4 separate regions of the Homo sapiens genome follow, and all the other regions are linked to region 3. Evidence: fine-mapped expression QTL. A gene starts in region 3. Each other region holds a variant in brackets. All regions are shown on one strand. Distances are between the middles of the regions. Region 1 overlaps RAB3C (RAB3C, member RAS oncogene family). Region 2 holds the start of PLK2 (polo like kinase 2). Region 3 holds the start of GAPT (GRB2 binding adaptor protein, transmembrane). Region 4 has its middle 160 kb from the start of LINC02101.

Region 1 (2,688 bases), 140 kb after region 3:
CCTTGATGGTGACACATGAAAGTGATTCTACAGTTGGGAGGCACTCAAGTTTGCAGATGGCCTGATCTCACAATATGAGAGAGATTCACATATGAAAGCAACCAGACAAAGAAGGCTGTAGAAACTAGAAGCCTGGGTGAACAGTTTTTTACGCTGGGGTTTATCAGAACCATTGTCTCCCAGAGGAGTGTCTGGTCAATAATTTTAACATAGGAACCATGGTCTCTACAGACCTCAAAGTGTGGTCCCAGAGTCAGTCCCTTGTCGGAATCACTTGGGGAATTTGTTATAACTGTAGATTTTGAACCCCATGTCAAGCCTACTGAATTCATATCTCTCTGTAAACAGAAGCAGGGAATATGGATTTCTAATAAACTTCCCAGGTGATAACTGCCATTCTGAGAAACAGTTCATCCTGTCATATTGTGTCTGTTCACGGAGGGCTGAAGGGAGGTCTACTTCAGTCTATAAACATTGATGATGGATCGGGGAAGGGGCAGACCAAGGTCTTTTTCTCAGACCTCCTTCTGTTTTCTGTAGCCAGATAACAGTCTTAGATTGGCCCAAATATGGCAGCAGGCTGTAGGCCTATTCTTCGAGTGGCTGTGGACAGAGGGTATATGTGCCTGGAGAATAGCATCAAAGCTTAAGAGCTTCTGACATACTGTATTTGACAATGGTTCTACTTGCTCTTTCATCCCCTTCTCTTCTTTCCCTACCAGCCTATTACCATCCCCTTCCCTCTCTCCATGACTGAATACAGTCCCACTTCTGTCTGATTGCTAACTTTGCTTTGGATTCTTTCTCTTTCCTCCTATTCACTACATTCTTAGCTATTGAAGTTTAGAAGCATTTTCTCTCCATTCACCTTCATCTCAGTTTTCTATTCTAGTCTCTGAACTGGACATGAAGCAAAATGGGAGGTTCTAATACTATCTCTGTCTCAACCAAAGAGATGTTTGTCTCCTTAAGCTTTTTGGCATTTCCCACAGTGATTTGCAAATTTCTTTTTATGTCATGGAGTCATGTCTTTAAAGGAAGGCATATGGAAAATTCCAATGACTAGAGGGAACTGACCTGTTTTCAGCAGGCTAGGAAGCATACGGTTTCATTTCTTCAACTTCCCAACCCCTTACCTAGAGGAAGGCAGAGAGGGCTCATCCTGGAAAACCATTGCTCTACAACATCTTTTAGAATGAGGGCAGAAGAACCTACAGACACATCTCTGGCAGACTCCATCCATGGGGTAAGCCCCTTTAGAGATGGCAGATCTTATGGAAAGAGCCCATAAAGTCTCTTAAAACTAGACTATAGGAAGGAAAGTAGAGGGGGAGGCACAAACGTAAAGACATCTAGCCCACAGGGAATCTGCCGTAACTCTAACATAACTTGTGT[A/T]TTTGTGTGATAAGGATTCATTAGTAAATAGTGCCAGGAAAAACATTTAATATGGACATTCTCTCCAGGTAGAGAAGAGAAAAAAATTGAGATGAGACCAACAGTTAAAACTTTCCATATCTGAATAAAAGTCATATTATTAAGAGATACATGAATAATCTATCGTTCAGATTTTGATTTTTCTTAACTGCCTCTTCCACTAAGTTATATGGGCTCCTAAGGGTTATGGGCTGGACATTATTTAATTCAGGAGTCTCAGCATCTAGCATTATTGGCCCACAGGAGATCTCAGTACATATTGAATTAATGAATGGGTATAGTAATATCTAACAGAGTTATGATCATGCTCGTTTACCCTATACATATTTACTTGTTAAATTTGTTTGTTTGGGCCACGTGTGGTGGCTCACGCCTATAATCCCAGCACTTTGGGAGGCCGAGGTGGGCGGATCATGAGGTCCAGAGATTGAGACCATCCTGGTTAACACGGTGAAACCCCATCTCTACTAAAAAATACAAAAAAAAAAAAAATTAGCCGGGCATGGTGGCTGGTGCCTGTAGTCCCAGCTACTCAGGAGGCTGAGGCAGGAGAATGGCGTCAACCCAGGAGGCAGAGCTTGCAGTGAGCTGAGATTGCGCCACTGCACTCCAGCTTGGGCAACAGAGCAAGACTCCATCTCAAAAAAAAAAAAAAATTGTTTGTTTGTACTCCTAAATTTTATTTAGATATTTTTAGTTCTCACAATCATCACTGTTCTTCTTTCCCATTATTTCAGGAGTTCAGGTTGAGGGATATTTATTCACACCATTGAAAAGTTTAAAGAAATATTATACAGGGAAATAAGATCACTTGGGAGAACTCTGCCTTCCAGAAGCAAGTGTAGCATTCTGGTTAGGAGCACAGGCCCTGATGTCAAACTGTCTGGGTTCAAATGCTGAATCAGCTCCATTCTAGAGGCTTCCTAACTTCTCTCAATTCTAGTTTCTTTATCTGTATAATGGGCATATTAGAATATCTCCCTTATAGTATGGTTATGAGGAATAATCAGGATAAAACATGCAATTCATTTAACACAGAACCTCATAAATGGTAAGACTCAAGAAATATTAGTTCTTGTTATTATTTGTGGCTTAGACCAAGAAAAAATTCAACATCCAATCTCAGAAAGTTGTGTTTTGCCACTTTGAAACTTTCCCCTGTTAATATAAAACTACTAAATCAGAGTGCCCCACCATCACCACCTCAGGTCACACCTCCCTGACTCTCTCCTTGAGAAAAATAGAAAGTTGTGC
Region 2 (2,668 bases), 31 kb before region 3:
AAATGGACGGCAGATATTTTAAATAAATAAATAAATGGGAAGAAAGAAAAGCAAAAAAAAAAAAATTGAGGAATGGAGGAGGGTGGACAGAGGGAGGCATTCGACTTCGTTAAAGCTCCCTCATGAAGAGAAATGCATTGCTGGAAACAGCAAGTTCAAACAGTTTCTCTTCTTCTTTTATAAAGGGGAGCTTTATGGAGGGAGTTGGAACGGGGAGACATGAAAAATAATCTCTGATGAGACTTGTCAGGAAAATTCCCTGGGAGCAGATAGAGGGAGAGAGGTCTGATGTAGAAAGCCCTCGCTTCCAGACTCAAGATGCATTTCTCTGGGCTGCGGGAGACACACAGTTCTGAGGCTAAGAATGCAAAGCCGATCCCCAGCGCTGCCGGCGCACAAAAGCCAGAGGGCAGGTGAGGAGCCCACCTCGCGCTGGGATCGGACCCCCGAAAAACCCGGAAGCGGCGGGCGAGGGACCCCGCGGGCTTGCCCGGCTTGGGGTCGCCCGGACAGACCTCCCGCCCGCCCGGCAGCCCGGCGCCCTCCGCTTGTCACCTTTCCCAGCACTTTGCCCCGGCAGTAGCGCTTCCCAGTCGTGGGGTCGACGATAATCCGCGAGATCTCCGGCCCCGAGTGCGAATGGTGGTGATGGTGGTGAGGGGCCGCCGGGGGCACTTGCGCCTGGGACTGAGGTGGCTGCGATTCCTCGGGGGGCTGCGGCGGCCGCTTCTTCTTCGAGTCCGCTCCGCAACCCTTGCCCAGCGCCTGCTCGCACATTTTGGTGCTGGCGGCTGGCTGGTAGGTGATAGTCCGCAAAAGCTCCATGGTCGCCTTGCCGCCCCGCACTGCCCGCTGCCACCCCCTAGGCGCGGTCACACGTCCGAGCCGGCCGTGGTCCTCGCACCCTTGCCTCTGGTGCCGACTAGCACCCAACACCCCGGTCCACTTGTGCGAGTGAGAGCGCTCGGCGAAGTCTTATATACGGGGAGGCGGGAAGGGGGCGGAGACTCGATACGCGACA[T/C]CACGTCACGGCCTATGCCCCGCCCCACGGCCGGCCGAGCGCGCGTGGCCGGGAAGCAAGTCTTGTCCCGCCACCCGGGTCTCGCTTCCCAGCGGAGCCGCGCGCCTCAAACGCCGGCCGCCGAGATCTCTTGCGGCCGCGGGAAGGCCTTCAGAGCCGTCCGTGGGCCCCGCTGTCCCGTTCTTCGAAGGCTCCGAGCCTCAGCGTACAAAACAGAATCGCGAGGGCCGACGCCTGGCCTCACCCCCGCCCCAGCCGCCTGGTGGCAGGGCAGTGCCGTGACCCGAGCGAGTCGGGCGCGGGTGTAGACGCAGTCCCTCCCCCGCACAGCCCTTCCCGGCCGCCCGGGGCCTCCTGTGTCAAGGTATCAGGGTGCCCGGAGCCCGCCGCACGGGCAGGCGAGGCCTCCTCCGGCCGTATGACAGGGCTCGTCTGCAGCTGCCCCGCAGTGCCTGCCCGCGCTGTGACGAGCTCGCTGGTGTCTAGCTGGGGCAGTGCCGAGAGGCCGTGGGGGTGAAAGGCCGGGATTCGTGGAGCCGGGCATTCGAGCCCATCGCGCTAGGGCAGACACGGGCCCGCAGCCGGGATCCCGGGCCGATCGGCCAACCGTGCCAGGATCCCACTCGAGGCCCGTCTGGCCCCCGCCCATGCCCCTAGAGCGAGCCTCTGTCTGAGGTCGGCCCCTGAACCTTGCAGAGCGAGGTCGGCGTCCTGGCAAGGCGTCCTCCGCCCGTAGCCCGAAGATTGGAAAGCAAGGGCGCCATCTTGTGGAATGTTCCGGAATGCCGTTAGGTGTCGAAGTGGGCAGCGGTTGACAACCGTGGGCCTTTGACAGTTACTAGTACTAAACATCGATGCCGATTGTGAGTTTCCAATCAGAGTCATCTATGACTTCTTCCGAATGCATCTGTTGAGATGGCTCATGAGCTGCCCTGGTTCCTGGAGAGTCAATCTGAGACTTTCTGGGGTAGGGAGATTGGTAGGATGAAGAGAGGAGCGTAGGCCAGTGAGTGCAAACACAGCTTAGTTTCCCATTTCCAGATTTTGCTGTGCAGTTTGACTAATCTAGGAACACGTTTTTTTGTTTGTTTTTCTTGTTCTAATTACGATAGAGTAACATTTATTGAGGACTGTGCAGTATTTTTAAATGCCTTATTTCATCCTACAACAATTCTGAGAGAAATATTGTAAGGAAGGAAAAATAATTTTCCACCTTTCAAAGTTTTGGCCTGGGTCGCTGTAACCAGACAGATTAACAAGAAAACAAAGAAGCTTATTAACATATACGTCTCATATATACATGGGAGATAACCAGGAAAATTAGAGATGGTTTAAAATCGGGCTTAAATACTATCTTTAGCTAAACCAAAAGAAAAGAGTGGGGCAGGCAAGTTAAGGAATCATGACCAGGAAATGTACGGTAAACAGGAGTGGGGTTTCTTATTTCTTCATTGATAAGTTTTTCATGATTTAGAGTCATTCTTCCTGGTACAGAGGAGACACTTTTACAAATGGAGTTTTGTGGGGTTTTTTTGTTTTTTGTTTTTGTTGTTTTTTTTTTTAGTGAATGTACGTTTCCCTTACGAAAGGGTAATATGCCATTTTTAGAGCATTTCCTGGGTCTGCTGGTTCTCAAAATAATTATCT
Region 3 (2,688 bases):
AAGCTGAATGAGCACCAGTTGTCCTGCCTTCTAGAGAAAATCATAATTTTATACAAACATTGTATAAATTGCCTTTCTTACAGATGTATGCCTAGGCAGGTGAGTGTGTATATTATTTGGAGGGGTGGCTAATACTGAAGTTAAATATAGTGGTGAGAATGTGGAGCACATCAAGTTCATAGCTTCACAACTTCATAACCTCCTTCACTGTAAGATTTTTGTCCAGGACACCCCTATTCTGCCTTAACACCTTATTCTATGAGGCTTAGCTCAGGTCTTGCCTTCCCTGACCACCCTCTGAGCTGGATGCCTCTTTCCTTTACCTCCACTGTCCCTGTCCATAATCCTGTCTTTCTTAGGCATTATCACTTTGATCTGAAATGTTCTGTGGGCGCAGCAGCCTCTCTACTTGGCTTTAAGTGCTGCAGGGAGCTTATTCACTCTTGCATCCTCATCTCTTAGCACAATGCCTGGCATAATGTCAGTGCTCAGCAAGTGTTAATAATACGTCCTGTCCTTCCAATGTCCAGTAGTTATTTCAGTAACTAAATCCTCTTTTTTAAAACCACCTTATGCAAAGTTAATCCTCTGTGGTTCAAAAAGTTCCAAGACAACTTAAAAGACAAATTTTCCATTACTTTGTCATCTCATCTGTCGAATTCATCTGTAATTTGTCTAATTCAGCATCTCCCACTGTGTGTGTTCCCATGAGTTGGACTCCAAGAGATGCTCTTGGTAAGCGTATCTATGTGGGAAACATGTTACTCAATCTAGCAAGGCAGCCAGTGCAGTGGTTTAGCACACAGGTGCTGGGGGCAAACTGCAGGCTCTGTCGGGCAAGTGATCATTCTGTGTGCTTCTGTTTCCTCTTCTGTAAAATAGGACTAATAACAGTTTTTCTCCCTCACAGGGTTGTTGCCAAGATTTGCTGAGTATTACACAAAAGGTTTGGAGTACTTAGTGCTAGGAACATACTGACTACTATTATTAAGCAAAGTTAAACAATTTCTTTTTCTTATTTGGTTTTATTTTGTTTGCTGGCTGTAAGACTGCTGAGAGCCTTTAGCATGCTGATGTACCCATGAATCTCCAGGGAAGCAGTATTCCCCACATTTACTTGATGGAAGAGCTGCTAGCATATCTCAGGGGTAATGGGCCTCAAAACATACCTTAGGAAATTCCTATTTATAAATTTAAAAGAACGTTAACATTTTCCAAACCCAAATTGGGACACTGATTTGACCTGTATGGCTATAACTTGGGAGCATTGGTACATAATATTAATATTTGAAGAGAGGACTGGTCTAGCAACACAAGTAAATAATAATAATAATAATAAAAGCCCAAGACCTATGTGTTACTACAATTAAAATATTTCTTTTTTTAAAAAATCAAAGTACAAGTGAAGTGACTTTTATTGATATTAAAGTGGGAACTGCAAATATGGCCCAAATAAAAAACCATGTAGGCTTTACGTATTATTTTCTGACACAGTTAAAAAACTATTACTTGACAAAGATGAAGGGCCAGACTTCCTTATTCAAAACCTCACGCCATTTATCTTAATTCTGCTGCATCTGATACTGACTTCCTCTAGAGCCAGGAAACTTTGCAAGTATTAAATAGCGTGAACGAAGGAGGGAAAGAAGGAAGTAACCCACCAAAGTGAAAAAGAGGAACAAGTTCTAACCCAATGCAGGTTTAAAACATAACCAAAAGAACAAAAGAGAGAGCTTGACACACCAATCTTGAGGTAAGTAAGAACCTGATTTAAGGTATTTGGATGATTAAACACTATAAGAAACAAGTTTGTCTTTAATTAATCAATGATTTTTATCTTACTACAGTTTTTAGAAAAAAATGCCTTACGTAGCTGTAAGGGGGAAACCCAATTTACAAACTGAGAGTGATGTTAATGTTTCTTTACAATATGATTATGCTTTGCTGTTACCTTGTTTCCAAACAGCAGGGCATTCTCTTACTTGAAAATTCCTGAAGTTTCTCAACAATTTGCGATTTTAAGAAAAATGTCAAATTGTTAGGTAACCTGTTGGAACTGCTTTCCAAAATGAAAACAGAGTCTTCTTTCAAACTGGTCAAAGTGAACATTATTTAAGTGTTAAACTATATTTGAATGGTTATTGTTTAAAATATGTTTTTCATTATAGTAGGTCTTTGTTCATGTCTCACAGGTTTTTTCCTCTAATGTTATTTCGAAGAAAATGATGCATTTCTTTTTCTGTAAAAAGTCTTCTTGTCTTTATCTTGGTAAATATCTCTTAGACAAACAATTTTAATATTTTGGATGTACCAGAATTTCTACTCTACATAGAATAACATAGATGGTAAAAATGCCTTTTCTTCTTAAAAATTAAGAGAGTAATTTATTGCCTTATCCTCAGCTACAGAAGTGACAATAGTTAGCCTTCCTCAACCCTCACCGTGACTTCTGTTGCAGGCCTAGTATCTTTCAAAAAGTTGATTAATTTCAATCAATACTTAAAGTGTATTTTGTAAATTTATTTCAAATATTCTGGCAAATAACTTCTTAAATCATTAACCATGTATACCATAAAATATCTTGCAGATAATTGGTGCTCATCTGTTTCAGACAGGAAATGAGGTCCTAATGATTAAAGTCATTTGGCTAAACTTTTGTCCTTGAACACAAGCACGGCTGGCCTTATA
Region 4 (2,688 bases), 200 kb before region 3:
ACATGGTGGCAGGTGAGAGAAAGTGAGAAAGAGCAGGAAAAACTGCCTCATAAAACCATCAGACCTCAAGAGAACTCACTCACTAACTATCATGAGAACAGCATGGGGGAAACTGCCTCAATGATCCAATCTCCTTCCACCAGGTCCCTCTCTAGACATGAGGAGATTATGGGGATTACAATTCAAGATGAGATTTGGGTGGGGACACAAAGCCTAAACATATCACTTGGCAAAACTCAAAATGCATCTCATGCATTCCAGGGAAGTGACCTAATATTTCTATGTATGCGTATGTTTTGTTATCCTATTGAAAATCTTTTTGGGATGCATGATGTCGGTATCCAAGGATCCTTTCTGCTTCAATATTGAGGCCATGTTCTGTAAGTTATATGCCAAAAGAAGCAAAGTAACTCCTTTCAACTCTTAAGATGTCATGCTATGCCCTCTTTAGAATAATATAATATTGATATCCTGCCCCTCAGGCTTGAGGCTATCTCCCATAGACTGTTTTAGAACAGCACAACACAAGAGATAAAAATGATATACAAAATGCCCCCCACTTCCTTTTTTTATTAATGTGTACGATTTCTTTAGTAAAATATAAGAAGTTTTTATAGAATCATTTCAATCCTATTGAGAGGGTGGGTTCCTCTTAGAAATAGCTCAAGGGCATCAAGGAATGTTTGAGCCTGTGATTTTTGCTCTGGTTTTGGCTAGGGGAACGCCATGTGCAAATGAAGTATGAGGTTAAAGTTTGGTGTGTAAGCAAGGTAATGTTCCTGAAATCGCATGGAGCTCTGCCTCTTTGGCCTCTCCTCCCTCTTCAGGCCTTCTTTATTCAGACTTACAGCTTGCAGACTCCTGAGGGCCCAGGAATTCTCATTTTAAGAGCCTCTTTGAGGTATGCTGGCTTGTGAAGGCAGCATGGTGTGCTCGGCTGAAGAGACAAGAGGCCTGGACTTTTGTTTTGATTCTATTTACCACTTACTGGGTGACCCTAGTCAAGTCACTTGACATATCTAGGCATTCTTTTCTCAGGGTTACTACCATTTGCCCTCTCTGGGTTATCTTGTTGGTCAAATTAGGAAATGCATGAGGAAGTACTTTTAAAGCTTAAAATGGAATGTAAGCTCTTTGCATCTGTTTTTTCTCATGTTCTCAACTGATAAGAATTCTCCAAAGATTTTTCTTCCACTCTTACTTCATTCTTTTTCTGCATAATATTCATTTCTTTGGTGCTTTCAACAGCACTTATGGGTTAACATATTACTTCTAGGCATATAATTCTCAGGTTGACATCTATACTTCCAAATCCTTTTTCAAATTCCACATCAAAACTTCCAACTGTTGCATTGATAACATACATTGCCAACCTCTCAGATGCAGCTGGTTTACA[A/G]TGAGTCCACCATCTCACCAATCTTCCCACCTCCCATTTGCAATTTCCTTTATTTTCATTGCATCATTATTCTCACTATAGGGACTAAAGTATCCCAGAAATATTTTTGGCCTCTTTCTTACCCCTAAACTCACTTCCTTACATCTATGTTCATATTTGGTCACTTCTCCTTCTACATAATCCTCCCTTTTCCATTTATTCTGCTAAATATTTTCATGCAGGCCCTCATTACCTCATGCCTGAATCATTGCAACAATTCCCTAATTGAACTGCCCATCCAGAATATCCTCCATTCAATGCATCGTATACACCATTTCAAATAATTCTATACTAAAGTACGACAAAGATCATGTCACTCTCTTGTTTAAAAACATTTAATGGCTCCCTCTTGCCTAAAAAATAAAGTGTCACATTTCTTGGCATTGTTAATATAATCTTGTTTGGTTGTTTCTTTATCTCTTTGAGGTTTTCATATATGTAGCAAAAGGAAATAAGTAGTAATTGGTACATACAATTTACTAATCAATTTCTCTGCTAAAGCTGGCTACCTCTGTTACTACGATCTGAAACTACAAAGAACAGCAGTCAAGTCTGTTCACACATCATTCCCAGTTAATCTCATTGGCTTTAATTTCACTGATTTCCTTCAAATTTCTAACGTCTTCTTTGTCTAGACTATTATTTCTTTCAAACATTTTTTTCTGTCAACTGTCCATGCAGTTTGTCTCTGCTATACCTTGCAGCTAAAATGCATTTGCTTAAAAATCTCTAGTAACATTTATTCAGTGTTTGAAATAGAATATGCCGGAATAGGAACAGCTCCAGTCTACAGATCCCAGCGTGAGTGATGCAGAAGACGGGTGATTTCTGCATTTCCATCTGAGGTACCAGGTTCATCTCACTAGAGAGTGCCAGACAGTGGGCGCAGGCCAGTAGGTGCGTGCACTGTGCATGAGCCGAAGCAGGGCGAGGCATTGCCTCACTCGGGAAGCGCAAGGGGTCAGGGAGTTCCCTTTCCTAGTCAAAGAAAGTGGTGACAGACAGCACATGGAAAATCGGGTCACTCCCACCCAAATACTGCGCTTTTCCGACGGGCTTAAAAAACGGCACCAGGAGATTATATCCCACACCTGGCTTGGAGGGTCCTACCCCCACGGACTCTCGCTGAATGCTAGCACAGCAGTCTGAGATCAAACTGCAAGGCGGCAGCCAGGCTGGGGGGAGGGGTGCCCGCCATTGCCCAGGCTTGCTTAGGTAAACAAAGCAGCTGGGAAGCTCGAACTGGGTGGAGC

What was found. PIP is the estimated chance that this variant, and not a neighbour inherited with it, causes the effect.
Region 1: its variant is fine-mapped to the expression of GAPT in whole blood (TOPMed, PIP 0.95).
Region 2: its variant is fine-mapped to the expression of GAPT in whole blood (TOPMed, PIP above 0.99).
Region 4: its variant is fine-mapped to the expression of GAPT in whole blood (INTERVAL, PIP above 0.99).

Annotation. Positions count from the first base shown.
Region 1 is chr5:58,632,066-58,634,753 of GRCh38, forward strand. All of the region lies in intron 2 of RAB3C (RAB3C, member RAS oncogene family), which reads left to right. Among named protein-coding and RNA genes, the nearest start is that of RAB3C, 50 kb to the left of the region's middle. The variant A/T (reference allele first, on the strand shown) is at 1,396.
Region 2 is chr5:58,459,135-58,461,802 of GRCh38, forward strand. It overlaps PLK2 (polo like kinase 2), which reads right to left and starts at 952. Exons shown (of 14, transcript NM_006622.4): 1 at 556-952. The coding sequence starts at 825. RefSeq lists a silencer at 1,270-1,449. The variant T/C (reference allele first, on the strand shown) is at 1,022.
Region 3 is chr5:58,489,789-58,492,476 of GRCh38, forward strand. It overlaps GAPT (GRB2 binding adaptor protein, transmembrane), which reads left to right and starts at 1,647. Exons shown (of 3, transcript NM_001304431.2): 1 at 1,647-1,753.
Region 4 is chr5:58,285,868-58,288,555 of GRCh38, forward strand. No RefSeq gene overlaps it. Among named protein-coding and RNA genes, the nearest start is that of LINC02101, 160 kb to the left of the region's middle. The variant A/G (reference allele first, on the strand shown) is at 1,397.